Linked DNA regions of Homo sapiens. The protein of the gene in region 1 purifies or fractionates together with the protein of each later gene. This does not show direct contact. Each region holds a gene or a part of one and is shown in the gene's direction. Other genes may lie near its edges.

What was found.
Region 2: the proteins of DCAF6 (region 1) and GPI purify together in Homo sapiens (affinity purification with mass spectrometry, with the first as the bait; one large-scale study listed by BioGRID). This does not show direct contact.
Region 3: the proteins of DCAF6 (region 1) and USP9X purify together in Homo sapiens (affinity purification with mass spectrometry; 2 studies listed by BioGRID, with this or other methods). This does not show direct contact.
Region 4: the proteins of DCAF6 (region 1) and KCTD19 purify together in Homo sapiens (affinity purification with mass spectrometry, with the first as the bait; one large-scale study listed by BioGRID). This does not show direct contact.

Annotation. Positions count from the first base shown.
Region 1 is NC_000001.11:168,001,998-168,006,929, forward strand, and holds part of DCAF6 (DDB1- and CUL4-associated factor 6), read left to right. Parts: intron 1-484; coding exon 485-578; intron 579-1,872; coding exon 1,873-1,992; intron 1,993-2,535; coding exon 2,536-2,796; intron 2,797-4,932. UniProt on the Homo sapiens protein: Ligand-dependent coactivator of nuclear receptors. Enhance transcriptional activity of the nuclear receptors NR3C1 and AR. May function as a substrate receptor for CUL4-DDB1 E3 ubiquitin-protein ligase complex.
Region 2 is NC_000019.10:34,363,700-34,368,711, forward strand, and holds the start of GPI (glucose-6-phosphate isomerase), read left to right. Parts: upstream 1-1,496; 5' UTR 1,497-1,560; coding exon of another isoform or gene 1,561-1,567; coding exon 1,568-1,689; intron 1,690-2,645; coding exon 2,646-2,736; intron 2,737-3,083; coding exon 3,084-3,152; intron 3,153-4,883; coding exon 4,884-5,003; intron 5,004-5,012. UniProt on the Homo sapiens protein: In the cytoplasm, catalyzes the conversion of glucose-6-phosphate to fructose-6-phosphate, the second step in glycolysis, and the reverse reaction during gluconeogenesis.
Region 3 is NC_000023.11:41,217,945-41,222,160, forward strand, and holds part of USP9X (ubiquitin carboxyl-terminal hydrolase 9X), read left to right. Parts: intron 1-427; coding exon 428-653; intron 654-1,157; coding exon 1,158-1,287; intron 1,288-4,216.
Region 4 is NC_000016.10:67,302,026-67,306,241, reverse strand, and holds part of KCTD19 (BTB/POZ domain-containing protein KCTD19), read left to right. Parts: intron 1-1,670; coding exon 1,671-1,821; intron 1,822-2,904; coding exon 2,905-3,096; intron 3,097-4,216. UniProt on the Homo sapiens protein: Transcription regulator which is essential for male fertility and for the completion of meiotic prophase in spermatocytes. Regulates progression of the pachytene stage of meiotic prophase and promotes the transcriptional activation activity ZNF541.

The DNA of each region.
Region 1 (4,932 bases):
GTCGCAATAGATTCTGTTTGGGAACCGAAGAGTAAATTGTCAATAATGAGTAAATTGTCAATAATAAATAAAAATAATGATGGTTCCCATTGTTAATTAGGTATGTGGGTAATTTAACTAGACTATATTTATCATCACAATAGAAAACTAAGGCTCAAGATGGTTAAAAATATCTTCCTTTTGTCAGCTGGAAGGTGATACAGGTGGGATTAGAAATCACATATACATGATTTCAAAGTTGCATTCAGGCTCTTTAGGTTGAAGATATTAGATATAGGCTGTCAACATCAGTGGATATTTATCCTCAGAATGAATGCTTTAAAAGACTGACGCTTATACCAGTGTCTTTCATATTTTCATGTAGATCTAATTTGCATACTCAAGAAGTAGGGAGATGGAAATAAATAGACATAAAGTATGCTTTAAGAGTTGAGAGTAGATGAGTTTTAGACTTACATAGAATTTACCCGTTCTTATTTTTTAGTTGCGACAACCACCAGTTAAGCGTTTGAGACTTCGTGGTGATTGGTCAGATACTGGACCCAGAGCAAGGCCGGAGAGTGAACGAGAACGAGATGGTAACTATACTTTGGTCAGCTTTTCTTTGTATATGGTATTTTAAAATTAATATTTTAACTTCCAGTTTCTTCACTATTATAAATTATTCTGTAATGAACATTCTTATACATATAGGTATACTTATGCAAATATATCTTAGGATAAATTCTTAGAAGTGGAATGGCGCAGTCACTGGATAAGTACCTTTTAATTTTGGTAGTTGTTATCAGATTAGTCTCCAAAAAAGATGTGCTAATTTACATTCCCACTGAAAGTATAAGAATGCCCATTACCCCATAGTACGTTGGGTATTGTCAGACTTTGCAGTTTTTGCCTTTCTATTAGATATTAAGAGAAATGAAAACTCAGCCCAAGGGTTTTATATTAGCACATAAAATGTTTTCTATCAAGTGCCTTTGATAAGCATAAGAATCAACCCTGGGAGCTTTAAGATAGCACACTTGAAAATAGAATTAATCTATGAATTATAATTCTATATTATTATGTTTTATTAAATTGGTCTGTAACCAAAATCTTACTATAATGACTTCTGAAACATCTCTTGTGATCAAAAGCATATTCCCCAATATATGAGCTACATTATATAAAGGCAATAAAGTGTAAAAGAAACTCTGATTTCACAGAAAATGTAAGAAGAACCGATTTTCATTTTAAATTATAAGACTATAGAATAGAGTTGTCACATTTTGAATTTGACATTACACTTTTAATTTGAAAATACCCTTGGAAAAACTTGTTTACTTGCAGGAGGAAAAGGAGTGAGGGAAGAGACAAAATACTTTCTGGTTCCAGTTAATTTCAAATATCTGAAATTTGCTTACAGTAAATGATGTTGAAAATAAATTGACTTTAAGGAAACTTCATGCAAAAGCATAAGGCTATTTTGTGTCTGTACTTGATTATAATGCTTTAGGGAGAGGGAAAACCTTTCTTTTAATCTATTAAACTTAGAATTCATGAGCCTTTCTTGGCTGGGTACTCTTAGAACTAAAAATTTAGGTTGAGGTAGGAAGTGGGAGGTTTAGTGGTACCTAAGAATAGGCAAAGATGAAGGAGAGGTGAGCCCTGTTCTCAAGAAACCTTACCATACACATGGAAAGTCACTGATATAAACAATTACTATAAAATGTGATGAGAGCTCTAATAGATTTATATACATTCATACAATTTATTTAGGAAATTTGATTTTTAAAAATATGCTTTCATTTTAAAGCCCTTCAAATCTAGGTTTTTGTATTAATGAAAGATTCTGACTTATTACTAAACTCACTGATAAGACCTATATTGTAATAGGAGAGCAGAGTCCCAATGTGTCATTGATGCAGAGAATGTCTGATATGTTATCAAGATGGTTTGAAGAAGCAAGTGAGGTTGCACAAAGCAATAGAGGACGAGGAAGATCTCGACCCAGAGGTAATTTTTAATGTTAATTAAAGTCATCAGAAAGCTGGCAAAAACTACTTATTGAAGCCAGTTTTTATTTCTATCATGTAAATTATACCATGTTTTACATCTGTAATAATCACAAGGTTCTTATTGTGTGGTGTGAAGTAGTAGAGAATAAAAGATATTGGATATAATTTGTCCCTTCTGGTGCCATTGGACCTAGTGCGTATCTTTTGCTTTTCTCAAAGTAAAGTAGAAGAATCTGAGGTTTCCTATTTTAAGCCTTTTTTTAATGCACTCTGAGAATGGAAATATATAAAATTCTGTGTATAAACAAGTTTTATGTAATAGGAAAGATTGATTGCTTTAACAAGAATATGTTGTAGATAAGTTTTTATCCCTCTTGACTGGCCTATTTTGTCAAATGGGCCAAATCACCAGTAGTTATTATCACTGAAATTATATATTTGTGTGTGTAAATATAAATGTGTTTTCTGAGCATATCTGTTTAGAGTTGTTGGTTTTAGAAAATATTTAAAATTTGAATTTGCCTTAACATGTGTTTTGAAGGTGGAACAAGTCAATCAGATATTTCAACTCTTCCTACGGTCCCATCAAGTCCTGATTTGGAAGTGAGTGAAACTGCAATGGAAGTAGATACTCCAGCTGAACAATTTCTTCAGCCTTCTACATCCTCTACAATGTCAGCTCAGGCTCATTCGACATCATCTCCCACAGAAAGCCCTCATTCTACTCCTTTGCTATCTTCTCCAGACAGTGAACAAAGGCAGTCTGTTGAGGCATCTGGACACCACACACATCATCAGTCTGGTGAGGATAAGTATGCTGTGGTTCATCTAATGATTTTTGATAGTGAAAATTTCTTTACTGGCTATTTTGAAAGATACTAAATCACATCAACTTCTTGTTGGAATAAATGATCAAAATGACATGTAATATATGGTTATGTAACTTAAACACAAAAATTAATTATGTCTTACTTGCATGAATTTTAACAAATAGCAGGAATCTTCAATTTATATAAAACAATTGTTTTAAAAGTACAAGTACCAAAAGATAGTGTTTTGACATAGTTTAATGTGCCTGACTTAAATATTATTTTATAGATTATTAGAGACCAAAATATCTTTCTAGATTTATTTGGTTTTATGTCTATATTAAAGTGATTATGAAAATATCAGTATTAGTTTCACTTTGCTTATATTCTTGATTATTTCCCTCAAATAATGCAGTACTTTTAATATACTCTCTATGGTGGATTTGATATGGTCTTTTGTCAACAACATATAATTTACCAAAAAATTTGTTTCTCTAGTATTTACATGAAAAAGAATTATTTTACCAAATGCTTATCTTCTTGATACTTGATGCTAGTGAAAATAACCTCTACGTTCTGTTAAAATGCTATTTTTTTCTCAGTATTATAAGTCTTTATGGTCAACTTTTTTCCCCTAACTATGGAATGTGCTAGTATTTATAATAGTAATTTTCAGCAGATGTATCTACAGTTTACTCGGTACTTTAAACTATATACATGTAATTATAAAAACCAATAAGATATTTATTCATAGTTTTCTTTGGTTCTTCTAAGGAAGAATTTTACTCAATATAGAGCCAGAATTATTAGCAACTAGAAATATAGCTGGCAGGCCTAAGCTGAAACCTATAAAAAAATTTCTAACAGCTTAGCTGCCAAGCTGTCACTTTATTCTTACATCTCTGGAAACTGATGCCAGATTACCAAATATGGGATGTTTTAATTTAAGCACTCTTTTATCAGTATATACCACTTTTAGTAATTCATTTTCAGTTTCTATGGGAATAAAAGCCAGAGTCAGTTACATAACTGTTAACACTGTATACATTTTATCCATAATAATAAGCTAAAGCTGAGCTACAGAATCAAGGTTTTCACACTCAGTTGACATAGCATTTTAATTTATGGAAAAATAAAATATTTTGGAAGATTTGGGAATTAAAAGCAGAAGTAGTTAAAAGTTTGTTTTTCAAAGCAGGTAAAATTGGGAAAAGCAAGAATTTTTAAAGTGATATTCTTGAACATATTGATCAATTATAAGTTTTTAGGAAAACTTAGCAAGAAGACTCTAGCTTACATTCAGCTTCCACTGAATCTCAACTAATTCTAGTTGTTTCTTAAATATATTTATGAGTAAAGTATTTGGAACTTTATTTTTTAAAGCTATCTAATGCATTTTAATTACTGCATTTCAAATTGCTAAATTCCTTTCAATATTTAATGTAAGTATTAAATGTGACAATCATTTGAATTATTGAAGAAGAAAAAATATCTTTGGTGGTCATGTGATGATTATTGAAACATTATGCAGTACTTTTACTCATAAATTATTTATAGGAAGTAAGGAAATATTTTTAACTGGGAGATTATTGAGAGAATTTTGGTTGACTAAGCTATAGATAATTAGAATATTTCCATGTTATCAAGACATTATCACTATTGAGAAAAATGATTTGGTGTTAGATGTAACATCTGAAGGTTATGACTGTAGTTGTTCTGATAACAGCTTTTTCATTATTCTGGAGTTCAACGTTTCAGGAGTAAGGACTTAATTTGTTTCTGTTTTTGTTTTTTGTCCAATCTCTTTTGCATTTGCCATAGCCTAAGTCCAAATGTGTTTGTGAATATTGGGAATTGTCCATTGGGTGAATGTAGTAGATGGAAATGTCAGCTTAGGACCATGATTTCTATTATTTCCCTGCATAGAGATAGAGAAAATGATAAAGTATACTTCTGTCTATGCTTGCCTTGCTGTGGATACCTTTTTATGTAAATGTTTATCCCTTTACATGTCCTCCCTCATTTTTACTGATATCAAAGAAACGGACAATGGGAATATGAAAATTTGCTACGCTCCATCTCTGGTTGAACCTAATTGTCTGCCTTCTCTTAGTCTACAGTGGAATCAC
Region 2 (5,012 bases), on another chromosome or scaffold:
GTCCCAGCTACTCAGGAGGCTGAGGCAGGAGAATCGCTTGAACCAGGGAGGTGGAGGTTGCAGTGAGCTGAGATCACGCCACTGCACTCCAGCCTGGTGACAGAGCGAGACTCCATCTCAAACAAACAAACAAACAAAAAAAGAACTCCAGTAGAACAGATACTGTTCAGCACTACCAGGGTTGTGCTAGGTGTGGAAGCTCAGTGAAATCTTAAGAGTTGACAGTTCTTAGAAAAGGGCCATGTGGACAGGGCTGTTCCCTGGAAAGTCCTGTGACCCCTCAGTGACCACTTATTTCTTTTGTTGTCAGCCTTTCCCTATTTTCTTTTCTTTTCTTTTCTTTTTTTTAAGACAAGGTGTTGCTGTGTCACCCAAGCTGGAGTACAGTGGTGGTAATCACGGCAGCCTCTAACTCCTGGACTCAAGTGATCCTCCTGCCTTGGCCTCCCGAGTAGCTGGGACTCTGCAGATATGCACCACCACATGCCCCGCTAATTTATTTTTAGTATTTTAGAAGCAGTGTTTTGCTGTCTTGCCCAGGCTCGGCTTGAACTCCTGGCGTCAAGCTATCCCACCTCCCAAAGTGCTGGGATTATAGGCAGGAGTGCCCAGCCCCAGAGTTCTTACAATGACTTACAAGGTCTTACGTGATCTTGTTGCCTCCCTTTTGCTCTCTGACCTCATCTTTTTTTTTTTTTTTGAGATGGAGTCTCACTCTGCCACCCAGGCTGGAGTACAGTGGCTCACTGCAGTCTTCACCTCCCAGGTTCAAGTGATTATCCTGCCTCAGCCTCCCGAGTTAGCTGGGAATACAGGCACGTGTCACCAGGCCCGGCTAATTTTTGCATTTTTTTTTTCAGTAGAGATGAGGTTTCACCAGGTTGGCCAGTCTGGTCTGGAACTCCTGGCCTCACATGATCCGCCTGCCTCGGCCTCCCAAAGTGATGAGATTACAGGCGTGAGCCACCGCGCCCGGCCTAGTCACTTTTTTCTTAATTGCAACCCCGATTCTCAGCACCCTTTTCATCTTGGTTTTCCTCAATAGCCCTTACCACCAGCAGACACACATCATCTGTTGTACTTGCTTATTTGGCACATATGTATCCACAGCGCCTAGAACACTGCCTGTAACGTGGAAGGTGTTCGATCTATAGAGTTTTGTCGAATGAATGAATGAAGCCGACTAGTGCACAGGGAGTGCAGCGGCGCGATGGTAGCTCTCTGCAGCCTCCAACACCTGGGCTCCAGTGATCCCCGGGCTCTGCCCACCCTCCCCACTGCCACTTCCGGGCAGAGGCCAGCAAAGCGGCGGCGCAAGAGGTAGGGAGAGAGGAGCTGAGGCCCCAGATCAGCGGCCGCGGGCAAGGTCGCTCAGCGGGCACCCGGCCTGGGTATCGGGGCGCGGGTCGGGGGCGGGGCCGGGGCTCAGGGGTGGGGCCGGGCCGGGCCGGGCCGGGCGCCTGCGCCATAAAGGCCGCCGCGCGCCCACGCGCCTCGCTTGCTGCGCGCTGCCGGCGCTCCTTCCTCCTCGGCTCGCGTCTCACTCAGTGTACCTTCTAGTCCCGCCATGGCCGCTCTCACCCGGGACCCCCAGTTCCAGAAGCTGCAGCAATGGTACCGCGAGCACCGCTCCGAGCTGAACCTGCGCCGCCTCTTCGATGCCAACAAGGACCGCTTCAACCACTTCAGGTGCGGGCGGGCCGGAGGCGGGGGCTGCCACGCGCGGCGCCCGGAACCGGGCACGCGGGCCTGGGGTCTGGAGGCGGGGGCAGCGGTGCCCGGGGACCCCAGTCCCCGACCTCCAGGCCACGGACTGGGGCCCAGGCCGAGTCCGCACTTCGTCCTTGGAGTCTCCTTGGAGTGCGTTCCTGGGGGCTTGCAGCCTCGCCGGGAGTCTCGGCCCCGGGTCTGCTTCGTTACGAGGAAAAACGGGCCCCTCCGTGGGGACATTTCCCCTCCTCCTCCCCGTGCAGCTCTGGCCATTTGAGCAGGGGCTCCTTTCGCAGTTGTGAAGAGAGGCCTTGGCTGACGCAGCAAGCGGGAAAGGGCTGTCCCTTTCCATCCGCTCCTGGCCACATGAGCTTGGGAGCGTCTGCAGGGCGGGCAGCCCGGGCGGGGGTGTTTGAGGGAGCTGGGTGGAAGGATGGAGACGTCGGGCGTGATTCCTGCAGAAGACACCTGTGCACGACCGGGAAGTGGGAAGGAGTGTTTGAGCAAATCATGGGCGGGAGTGCGGCCAAGGGAGCTCTGATCACTGATACTGGTGGAGGCGGGGGAGGGGAGCGACTGTGGCTCCGGGCTAGACGTCCCGATGGCCATCCCTGTCATCTGGATGGGTGCCTGAGTAACTTACGGCAGAAAGTGGAAGCCCTGGGAAGGGGTGGTCCCCCACTTCAGTCCGGGCTCCTCATCCAGGGTCTGCCTGCATCTACGGTCTGTGAGGATGGCTTCTTTCTCTGGGCTGCTGTTGCAGATCATCCTGGTGGGCCAGCAGGTGACAGACACCACCACTGTGCTGGGTGGCCGCGGCCCTTGTGGGGCGTGGGTCAGGGAGGATGTTTCTTCTGGGAACAGCTCCTGCTTAGGGCATGGCTCCCCGCTAGGGAGACCAGGGTGTGGTCAGCAGCATCTCCATCTTTCTGCAGCTTGACCCTCAACACCAACCATGGGCATATCCTGGTGGATTACTCCAAGAACCTGGTGACGGAGGACGTGATGCGGATGCTGGTGGACTTGGTAATGTTCTGCTTGGGGAGGCATAACTGGTAACCGACAGAGTGGTGGGTGAGCTGGGCTCCTGGGAGTCCCCAGGACCTTGAGTATCTTGAGTTCTTCCTCTCATTAGACCTCAGTCACCTCCTCTGTGCTGGTGAGGCACCTGTCCCTGGCTTAGGTTCTAAGCAGCATCCCAGGGACCCCAGTGTCTGATGTCTGAGTAGACCCTTCCCAGACAGCAGGGGAGGGAACCAGACAGCAGCCGTCTGTCTGTCTCATTGGGGACAGCACCAAGCCTTGTGTTTGGGGGCTGACACTTGGGGTGGCCAGTGTGGGTGGGACCAGGCCTCAGTATCGTCTCTTCCTAGGCCAAGTCCAGGGGCGTGGAGGCCGCCCGGGAGCGGATGTTCAATGGTGAGAAGATCAACTACACCGAGGTGAGCAGGCCCCACATACCCTCTGGGGCCTCCTTCCTTCCCTTTGGGGTTTATCTGACTGTTAGCCGCATCACCCTGTGTCTTCACCCCTTCTCTTGGGCAATGCTTTTGCTTAATGAGGGGCCTGAAGGCCTTTTTCCTCCTGCTTGTAGCAGGGCTTTGGGGTGTGCCTTCCACAAGATTGGTTTGGTGAGCTCCTTGGAATGGTTCCCAGTGTCTGCCTGGGAGGAGCATATCTCATACCCACAGGGAGAGTTTCTCAAGGCTGACATTTTCTTGGAGAAGTTAACTCTAATATATCCTCAATGCAAGTTTTAGTAGCGACAAGAAGAATCTTAGATCACCAAAGACTTCAGCCTACTCAAGCAGTAGGAGTCAATAGGAAGCAGTGGTGAGGCCAGGCCTGGGGGCCCCTGTTCCTGACTCAGTATGGGAGCCCAGCCTGGAGGTATAATGGACACTGAGCACCCAGACTCTGTCCTCATGATGTCATTATCCTCCTCTTACATGTGAGGAGTCTGAGGTTCAGAGGTCACATCACTTATCTAAGATGTCATAGCTGTAAGAGGCAGAATGGAGATTCACACTCAACCTGTCTTGCATTGTGGGTCTAAGCTGAGAGAGGATGCAATCAAGGAAGGCTTTCTGGAGGAGTGCATTTGCCAATAAAATGTGGCGCAGGAGTGGGGTCTGGCAGGGTGAGGGTGGGGTGGCATGAAGCCCTCCACCTTAGCAAGCCTCTCACTGGGTCGGAATCCCAAGATGATCCTTTTCCTGCCCACCTGGGGTCGTTAGACCTTCCCTCAAGGACTCCTCTGCTGACTTCAGGCCATTTCACTCACGTGGCTGGGCCAGCCGCCTGGCACCCGTCACAGACTTCAAGTCTGGTTTGGTTCCTGGCAGTTGGTAGTTATCGGGCTGCTTGGTGAGGGAAGCTTGAGTTGCATGCCTTGCTGCAAATCCAAGGAGCTGAGGACACTGCCTAAAACGTGCCAGCAAACACCATGGACACACATTGGGAGGATGAGGTTACTTCAGGCTTCATGAGCACTCATCTTCGGAAAGCGTTTATTTATTTATTTATTTTGAGATGGAGTCTTGCTCTGTCGCCCAGGCTGGAGTGCAGTGGTGCGATCTTGGCTCACTGCAACCTCTGTCTAATGGGTTCAGGCGATTCTCTGCCTCAGATTCCTGAGTAGCTGGAACTACAGGTGTGTGCCACCCCCACCTGGCTGATTTTTGTATTTTTAGTAGAGACAGGATGTCACCATGTTGGCCAGGCTGGTCTCGAATTCATGACCTCAAGTTATCCACCTGCCATGGCCTCCCAGAGTTCCGGGATTACAGGCGTGAGCCATGGCGCCCGGCCTCTGAAAGCATTTATTGCTTGTTTCTGACATGTATTGTTGCCATTCTCTGCCTTTGCTCACTGTTCCTCTTTTCTCTCACTGTTCATGCCCTGAGCATCTCTGGCAGGCCTTCGGGGCCTGTCCTAGGCATATATGGGTCCCCTCCTCTCCTCCTGACTGTCTGCAGCACATAAGTCCTTGGGGAGCTCCTACTCCTCTAAGCATACAGTGGGTTCTTGGAACAAGGTTATGGTGCTAACAGAGACCTCAGGGCCTGCCTGTCTAGTGGATAGAGGGCCGAGCTATGGCACCATGCCCAGCTGGGAGCATGGCTGCCTGGGGTTGGGGGGGGCAGTCTTTATATCCTGACCGTAATCCCCAGGGTCGAGCCGTGCTGCACGTGGCTCTGCGGAACCGGTCAAACACACCCATCCTGGTAGACGGCAAGGATGTGATGCCAGAGGTCAACAAGGTTCTGGACAAGATGAAGTCTTTCTGCCAGGTAAGTGGC
Region 3 (4,216 bases), on another chromosome or scaffold:
TTATTAGGTTTTAGCTTACCTAGATTGAATTCTGACACCGATTAAAAGGGTAAAAAATTAAAATGGTTTTCTTAAGTTTCTAATTGTGAAAGTATAGAGGCCATTATGATACATTGATTTAATAATTTTTACTTACTCATTTCAGGAATATGTCAAGATAAGGGGGTGGTATTTTGTCATTGAATCTAGGAAGAGTTTGTTAATGGATTTTTAGAGGACAAGCTTTCACCTGTTTGGTAACTCTGAGAGAATAGACCAAGTCATAGTATTTATCTATTGTTTTAATATTAGAAGCAACCTTTGCTGGTTCTCTCCAGCAGTAGAGGAAGATCTTTGTCTTTTTTTTTTGGTTCAATGAGACTCATCCTTTTACTATAGAGAACAAGTTATTGACTTAATAGTCATAGGTTTTTTTGTTTTATTTTAGGTATGATGCATTGTGTATTCTCCTTCGTCACAGCAAGAATGTACGTTTTTGGTTTGCTCATAACGTCCTTTTTAATGTTTCAAATCGCTTCTCCGAATACCTTCTGGAGTGCCCTAGTGCAGAAGTGAGGGGTGCGTTTGCAAAACTTATAGTCTTTATTGCACATTTTTCCTTGCAAGATGGGCCATGTCCTTCACCTTTTGCCTCTCCTGGACCTTCTAGTCAGGTAATTGCACAGCTTTCTTTCTAAATGATGAGATGTTTACAAATAAATTGTGTTTCCTGGAAGTCGAAGTCACAAGCATATGTGCATCCACTTGATATGTTTACCTAACAGAAACACACAATATGATGTCAGTGAGTTCCATTTAATATTACTGCATGGCAATGAATAGTAATTATTGGCTCTTTAAAAATGTAAGAGAATTTTCTCTGTTCGGTTACATGCAGTAGCTTAATTATAAGTTTACTGTTAAGTAGATTTTTTCCTATTTTGAAGGTTTTTTAAATAGTCTTAGATTTTTTTAAAAAATTACAAGTGTAAAAAATTATAATGAAATCCGCCTCTGATCTTCATTCCCTTTCCCAAGAAGCAAAATAGTTTAGTTTGTGTGATCAGTCCTTCCATAAATGTATGCCTGTATCAGCATATGTGCATGTCCTTTTTATGCAAGTAGAAGTATACATATACCTTGTTGCTGTAAAACAGGTAATGTTTTATCCTTTACAGGCTTATGACAACTTAAGCTTGAGTGATCACTTACTAAGAGCAGTACTAAATCTCTTGAGAAGGGAAGTTTCAGAGCATGGGCGTCATTTACAGCAGTATTTCAACCTGTTTGTAATGTATGCCAATTTAGGTAAGAATTTAAGTTTTTCAGAATTCTGTTTTGATGTATCATATTAAATTGTGAAGTCATTTAGGTCAAGTGATGAAATATAATCTGATCTGAAGTAGAAACAATTTCCCATAAAACCTGTTGTGAATTTTATCTGAACATGGCACTTTCACCTTTTACTTTGTTTATGCATGTGTCTTTGTGGTAGACACAGGTCAGAATCTGTGTTTTGATTTTTTTTTTTTTTTAATCTCCTAATGCAGTGGTGCCAAATCTGGCTGCTTTTGGAAAATACTGGTTTCTAGGCCTCTTCTCACACTGATTGAATCAGCATCCCCAAAGCTAATGTCAGGGAATCCATGTTTTCAAAGGGGTCCCCAAATGGTTGTGATACTCACCAAATTTAGATAGCAGACTTGGTCTGTACATAAGTTTTTGTTTAAGTAAACTACAATTATGGATAATATAAATACTCGCTTAAAATATTAATTTAGGGGCCGGGCACAATGGCTTATGCCTGTACTCCCAGCACTTTGGGAGGCCAAGGCAAGAGGATTGCTTGAGCCCAGGAGACTAACCTAGGCACCATAGGGAGACCCTATCTCTACAAAATAAAATTTTAAAATTAGCTGGATGTAGTGGCATATGCCTGTAGTCCTAGCTACTTGGGAGGCTGAGGTGGGAGAATCACTTGAGCTAAGGAGGTTGAGGCTGCAGTGACCCGTGATTGCACCACTGCACTCCAGCCTGGGCAACAGAATGAGACCCTGTCTCCAAAAAGCAAACAAACCAAAAAGTCATATATCCAAAATGAAGTTCTATATCCAGGCGTACCTGTCGTTTCAGGTTTTTTTTCTGTGATCTTACTTAATCACCATTGGATCCATGGCCCTTTTAACATAAGGGAGATTGTACTTTTCATTTGTCTATTTAGTTTGTCTTCTTTTCCCTTGTCTTTTCCGTAATTGCAGATATTTGGGTATTTGTAGATGAGAAAGAGAATATTTATTACACAGACAAGCATAAGTGGAATCTGTATTTCAAACTTAAAAATGCCAAATTTAGACATTCAGAAGAATCCTATTCTGTTCAACTCTTTTAGATATTGCCTGTTCACAAAGCACACATCATTGTTCCATAATGTAACCTACTTGTAAAATTTTCCTGCTGAAAACAAATACTGTAGGGCCTGTAAACCTTAATATGAAGTCCTTAAGATCAGATATGCATTGGGATTGAGAATTGTTTGGATTTAAGAAAAGCAAGGCAGTGCATATACCAACATCTCTATAGCAGGGTCTGAGACAACAACTTACAATTGAACACATTAATATTTCTACAGTAAAATATGAATATTTATACTGAAGGGAGAAATAAAGACTATAAGTAGCCTTTAGTCAGTTTGGGCTAGGTTATCCCACCAACCACATTTTGACAGCAACTTAATGAAAAACTTTGTTGGGCTGGGCGAGGTGGCTCATGCCTGTAATCCCAGCACTTTGGGAGGCCGAGGCAGGCGGATCACCTGAGGTATGGAGTTCAAGACCAGCCTGGCAAACATGGCGAAACCCCATCTCTACTTAAAAATACAAAAATTAGCAGGGCGTGGTGGCGGGCATCTGTAGTCCCAGCTATTCGGGAGGCTGAGGCTTGAATCTGGGAGGCAGAGGTTGCAATGAGCCAAGATCGCGCCACTGCACTCCAGCCTGGGCAACAGGGCAAGACTCCGTCTCAAAAAAAAAAAAAAAACTTGTTATAATAATAGCTTTTGGGCCAGGCGCGGTGGCTCACGTCTGTAATCCCAGCACTTTGGGAGGCCGAGGCAGGCAGATCACAAGGTCAGGAGTTCAAGACCAGCCTGACCAACATGGTGAAACCCCGTCTCTACTAAATATACAAAAATTAGCCGGGCGTGGTGGCACATGCGTGTAATCCCAGCTACTCAGGAGGCTGAGGCAGAAGAATCGCTTGAACCCAGAAGGCGGAGGTTGCAGTGAGCTGAGATCACACCACTGCACTCCAGCCTGGGAGACAAAGCGAGACTCCATCTTAAAAAAAATTAAAAATTAAAATAGCTTTTGGAATCTTAGGATTTCAGATAAGAGGTTGTGGACCTGTTTTTATTATGTTTTTGGGAATATGGCAATAAATAAGATTGTCTAATGGGATATAGAAGCAAATAATGTAGTTGCCATAAAATATGTTAATAGCTATAATAGGGAAAATGCAAAGTGCATCACGGGGGGCATGGTACCTGAAGGGATTTGGGGAGTGCAGAAGACTTAATGGGGAATGTAACGTGGGAATTGGTTAGTTGAGCTTTCCATCTAGAGTGTGAACAGCAGATGCAAAGACTTGATAAACTTGGCGTGGCTTATTGGATGGGATGAAAATTGTCCAGTCTGACTAGAATTGATGTAAGATGGGAATGGCAGGAGTTTCTGATCATGCAGTTCTAATAGGCCTTGTGAGAGAGACTGAGGCATTGGATGAGCCATTGTAGGGTTTTGAACAGATAATACCATCTAGAAAGAGCACTGTGGCCACAGTGTGGAATGTATTGCAGTGGAGTAAGATCCCAGAGAGTGTTAAAATGATCTATAGACATAAGATCATTGTGACCTGTACTGGAGAACTGGCAGTGAGGGAGATACAAGTGGACAGATAGATATATGGTGCTTTTTATAAGAAGTGGAATCAGTGGATTTGGTGATGGGATATTCAGAGAAGGAGGGGACAGGGAAGAGATGTGAAGAATGATGCCCAAAATTCTAACATGAACAACTGTGAGTGGATAGTGGTACCATTTACTGAGGGGAAACACAGGAGGAGAAACATGTATGTATGGGAAGAAAGGGGTGAGTTCAGTTTGGGTAGATTGAGTTTGAGCCTGTGTGACACCCAAATGGAGATATACAGTAGAACAGTAAGTAATTTGTCTTGAAATGTT
Region 4 (4,216 bases), on another chromosome or scaffold:
GTCCAGAAACTTCATAATTGACACTGGCTCTAATCTCAGTATACGTAAATTGTGGTCTTTCATATCTTTCTTCTCTCCCAAGCTGAGAGCTTCTTGAGGGCAGGCACAGTGTCTGACTGTGGCCCTGGTGATGCACAATGAGTATTTCTCAAATGAATGACAGACTGTCTTCCAGCGTTCCACGCACACACTGTCTCCCCCATTGTTCACTGCCACAGGAAAGCACTCCCCACGATCCCACCATTGCCCAGTGCTTTTGCAAACCCTCCAGCCATCCAGAGTGGGAAAGATTCTCCCACTCTGGCCCGCCTTCTTTTGCATTGACCTTAAGTGATTATGCGGGCACAGTTTATAGCTTGGCCACCAGAGGACTAGTCTCAATGCTCAGGATTTTTGAGAGCAACGTCACAAGGGCTTCATTGACATAGCAGCATTTAGAGGCAGATTATTTGTTAGTTTCAGACTAAATCTGGGGCACCTGTCCATTTTGAGGATCTGGTGCCTTTAAAGTACCACTTGCCCTGCTATATCCGGAAATTTATTGGGAAAATACTATGTATCTTCTTCTAGCGTAAAGACAGAAAAAAAAAGGGAGGGGGTGCTGATGTTATGATAATCTGCCCCCTGCAGGACTTTTGAGGGAGAATGGGTCCCTGGGTAAGGGCGGCACGAAGACCGCCCTGGGCTTCAGGCTTGCCTAGTTGGGGTGCTCCACTCCAGCCTCAGCCCACCTCTGGTCGCCTGATCCTTCAAGCTGACAAGCTCTGGACTTGGAAGACTGCTTGGGCGGGCCACAAAGCCTTTGACCTCAGCTGCCTCATCAGTAAGACACTCACCAACCACATCTGTCTCACAGAATCATGTCATGGTAAATGAGAAAAAGTGTGTTAAAGTGTGTTGAAAAATGTGGAGTCCTGTGGCAATATAAGACATGTTTATTATACCTCAATCTCACCACTTAGATCACTACCCAGGGTTAGGATGAACACAAACAATAGCAAATCACAATTATAACAGGTTGAAAGTGATTTTGAGCACTTGAAGGAAAATGATAGCAGAAAATAACAAGTTTTTAATGATTAAATAGAAATTACTCTTTAGATTGTGCAAGATAAATTACTATTACTCAACATAAAATTATAACAAAACTTGTTTCAAAAATCAGAAGAGAAATAATCATTGGGACTTTGAATATCAGCATGTCACCCTATAGCCCTACATTTTTACATTTTTTGTGTGACTGCCTAATTTATTTCAAAACACTTAAAGTAAGTCGCTGGGCGCGGTGGTTCATGCCCGTAATCTCAACCCTTTGGGAGGCCGAGGCGGATGGATCACCTGAGGTCAGGAGTTCAAGACCAGCCTGGCCAACATGGTGAAACTCTGTCTCTACTAAAAATACAAAAAAAAATTAGCCAGGCGTGGTGGCAGGTGCCTGTAATCCCAGCTACTCGAGAGGCTGAGGCAGGAGAATCGCTTGAACCCAGGAGGTGGAGGTTGCAGTGAGCTGAGATCGCACCACTGCACTCCAGCCTGGGCAACAAAACGAGACTCTGTCTCAAAAAAAAAAAAAAGTAAGTCACATACTGTTTTTCCTGATCTTCACACTAGAATTGGTACATAGTTACTTGGTTTAGATTCTCAAGATAGTACTCTTCATTATCTAACAGACTCTAGATAACCTGAAGGAAGGGAAACACCATCTACGCGTACGGCCTGCAGACCTACCTGTTGCTGAGAGAGCATCTCTGAACTACTGGCGTACATGGAAGTGTATTAGCAAACCCTCAGAATTTCCAATTAAAAGCCCAGCCTTTACAGGTGAATTGGGATAGGCTGTCCCTCCCTAAAGCCCACACCAACTTTCCCTCTCCTCACCCTAACAGAAGTGGCTTCCATCCAGAGAGCAGAGAGTGCCTGATTTCTGAGGCAGTCTCTGTCATCTCCTTTGATCTTCTGCCCTGCCACAGGCCCTCTCCATGGCTGCTTGCCTGCTGGAACCAACATTCTCCTCCACACTCACTCCTCTGCATTCTGGCTTCATGTGGGCAAGGCGAGGTTTCATTCCACTCCCTCCTATTCATCAGGGAATGCCACCATTCTTTTGAGTTTCCTCCAACCACCACACACAGAATGTCCCTAAATAATCACTGTCTGATGGGTGCCTGGCAGCATAGTTCAGCCTATCTGAGACATGAGTACAAAGCATTTATGATTATTGATGGATTTTAGCTTCCAGGAGTGTCAAAAGCATCTATTTTGTCTGTGGATCACTGTGTTTGGTTTGATCAATTAGAATCAAATGGGTAAATGAATTTAATGACTTTGGATACATAAGTCAAAATGTCACATGTCCCACTGCCCTTCACTGTTTATAGAAAAAATATAGATTTCCAGCTGGGCACGGTGGCTCATGCCTGTAATCCCAGCATTTTGGGAGGCTGAGGCAGATGGATCACGTGAGGTCAGGAGTTCGAGACCAGCCTGACAACATGGTGAAACCCCGTCTCTACTGAAAACACAAAAATTAGCTGGGTGTGGTGGCACGTGCCTGTAGTCCCAGCTACTTGGGAGGCTGAGGCAGGAGAACCAGTTGAATCTGAGAGACAGAGGTTGCAGTGAGCCAAGATGGCACCACTGAATTCCAGCCTGGGCAACAGAGTGAGACTCCATCTCAAAAAAGAAAAGAAAAAAAAATAGACTTCCATGCCCCACTCCCTACCACACTCCTTAGGGCTACAACTGAAAAGATAAAGAAGGAAGATGTGTCTGGCAAGTGGCAAGGACCATATCCTGGGGGGTCTCTCTAGCATCCTCTGGGGCCCCTGGGTCAGTGAAAGCCCTGCTGGAATCAGATCCCTGGCTTCTGAGAGGTGGCAACACTGCCTGCATGTTCTCTTCCAGGCCTACATGATAAGGCACCTCTGGGGCTCATGGACACACCCCTGTTAGACACAGAAGAGGAGGTGCACTACTGCTTCCTGCCCCTAGACCTGGTGGCCAAATATCCCAGCCTAGTGACTGAAGACAACCTGCTGTGGCTGGCTGAGACGGTGGCCCTCATCGAGTGCGAGTGCAGCGAGTTCCGCTTCATTGGTGATTGCTCTGTCCGGGGTGGGGTGGGGGGCGGGCTGATAGGGCCCATTCACCCCTCCCCATCACATGTCCCACAGAGGCCCAGCTTGGTGCTCAGGGCCTCAGGAGCTTCCCTGGGCAGAGGTAGCGGAAGCATGACAGAGCCTTCCAGGAAGCAAGCAGATTCCAGCATTAGAATCTCACTAGACTCAGGGCTGTTTTATTCCCTATTTGTTTTGGGATGGCCTGGCTGTAAAAGTGTCAGGCACTGGAAAGTGCTAGGGACCACAGGAGTTGGTGTGAAGGGCAGGGAGCTCAGCTGGTTGCCAGTCGGCTTCTCTTCTTACTCTGCCCTTATGTATCCAGCTGGTCTTCCGGCCTCAGTTCCTCTCACCATAAAATGAGGAATCCAGATTGTTTCAAAGGATGGTGCTACCTGCTCTTAATGTCAGCAAACTCAGAATAAAAGGGAAGGAGGGTGGATGGTGACAGGTTCCCCCAGAGTCATAGCAGAATTGTCCACTTGAGGTAGTGGCCTAAGGAAGGATGAGATTTTCCACCTTTGACAGAGAGAGCCTCTCTCCCCCTACTGCCCCAGGATGAGCTCTGTTTGGGATGTGAACTGAATGATCTCTTTGACCCCAAGATGCTACTGCTGTCTAGATAGATAGGGCAGTAAACACTCAAGTTACACTAGGAGCCCAAATGTCTGGAACCCCAGTCATTCATATTCATAGTCACCTAGAAAGTTGTCTGTGATGTGCTTCTGTATCTCTAAGTTGATTCACACAGGACATTAGCGTTGGCTCCATCTCTGCCTCCCATACTGCAGTCCAGGCAGGGACAAACTGCAAGTGCCACCCGCCAGCCCAGGCTCGGCCGGGCCCCTCCTCTCTAAGCAGCAAGACAACTCCCTCTTTTGGAATGACCTGCTCTTGGGTCAAAACTCACAGGGTAAGTCTCAGGGCCAGTGTGCCCACCAGGAGGGCCTGGCTTGGGAGCCCCAGGCCAAGCCACGGGAGGCCACACCCACGGCCTCAGACACAGGAAAACAAAGTAATGTGGGGTCTTTCGCCTTGAAAACCACACACTCAAAGCTAATCTAATAAGGTATGTTGATAAGTTGTTTCAGAACAAGGAG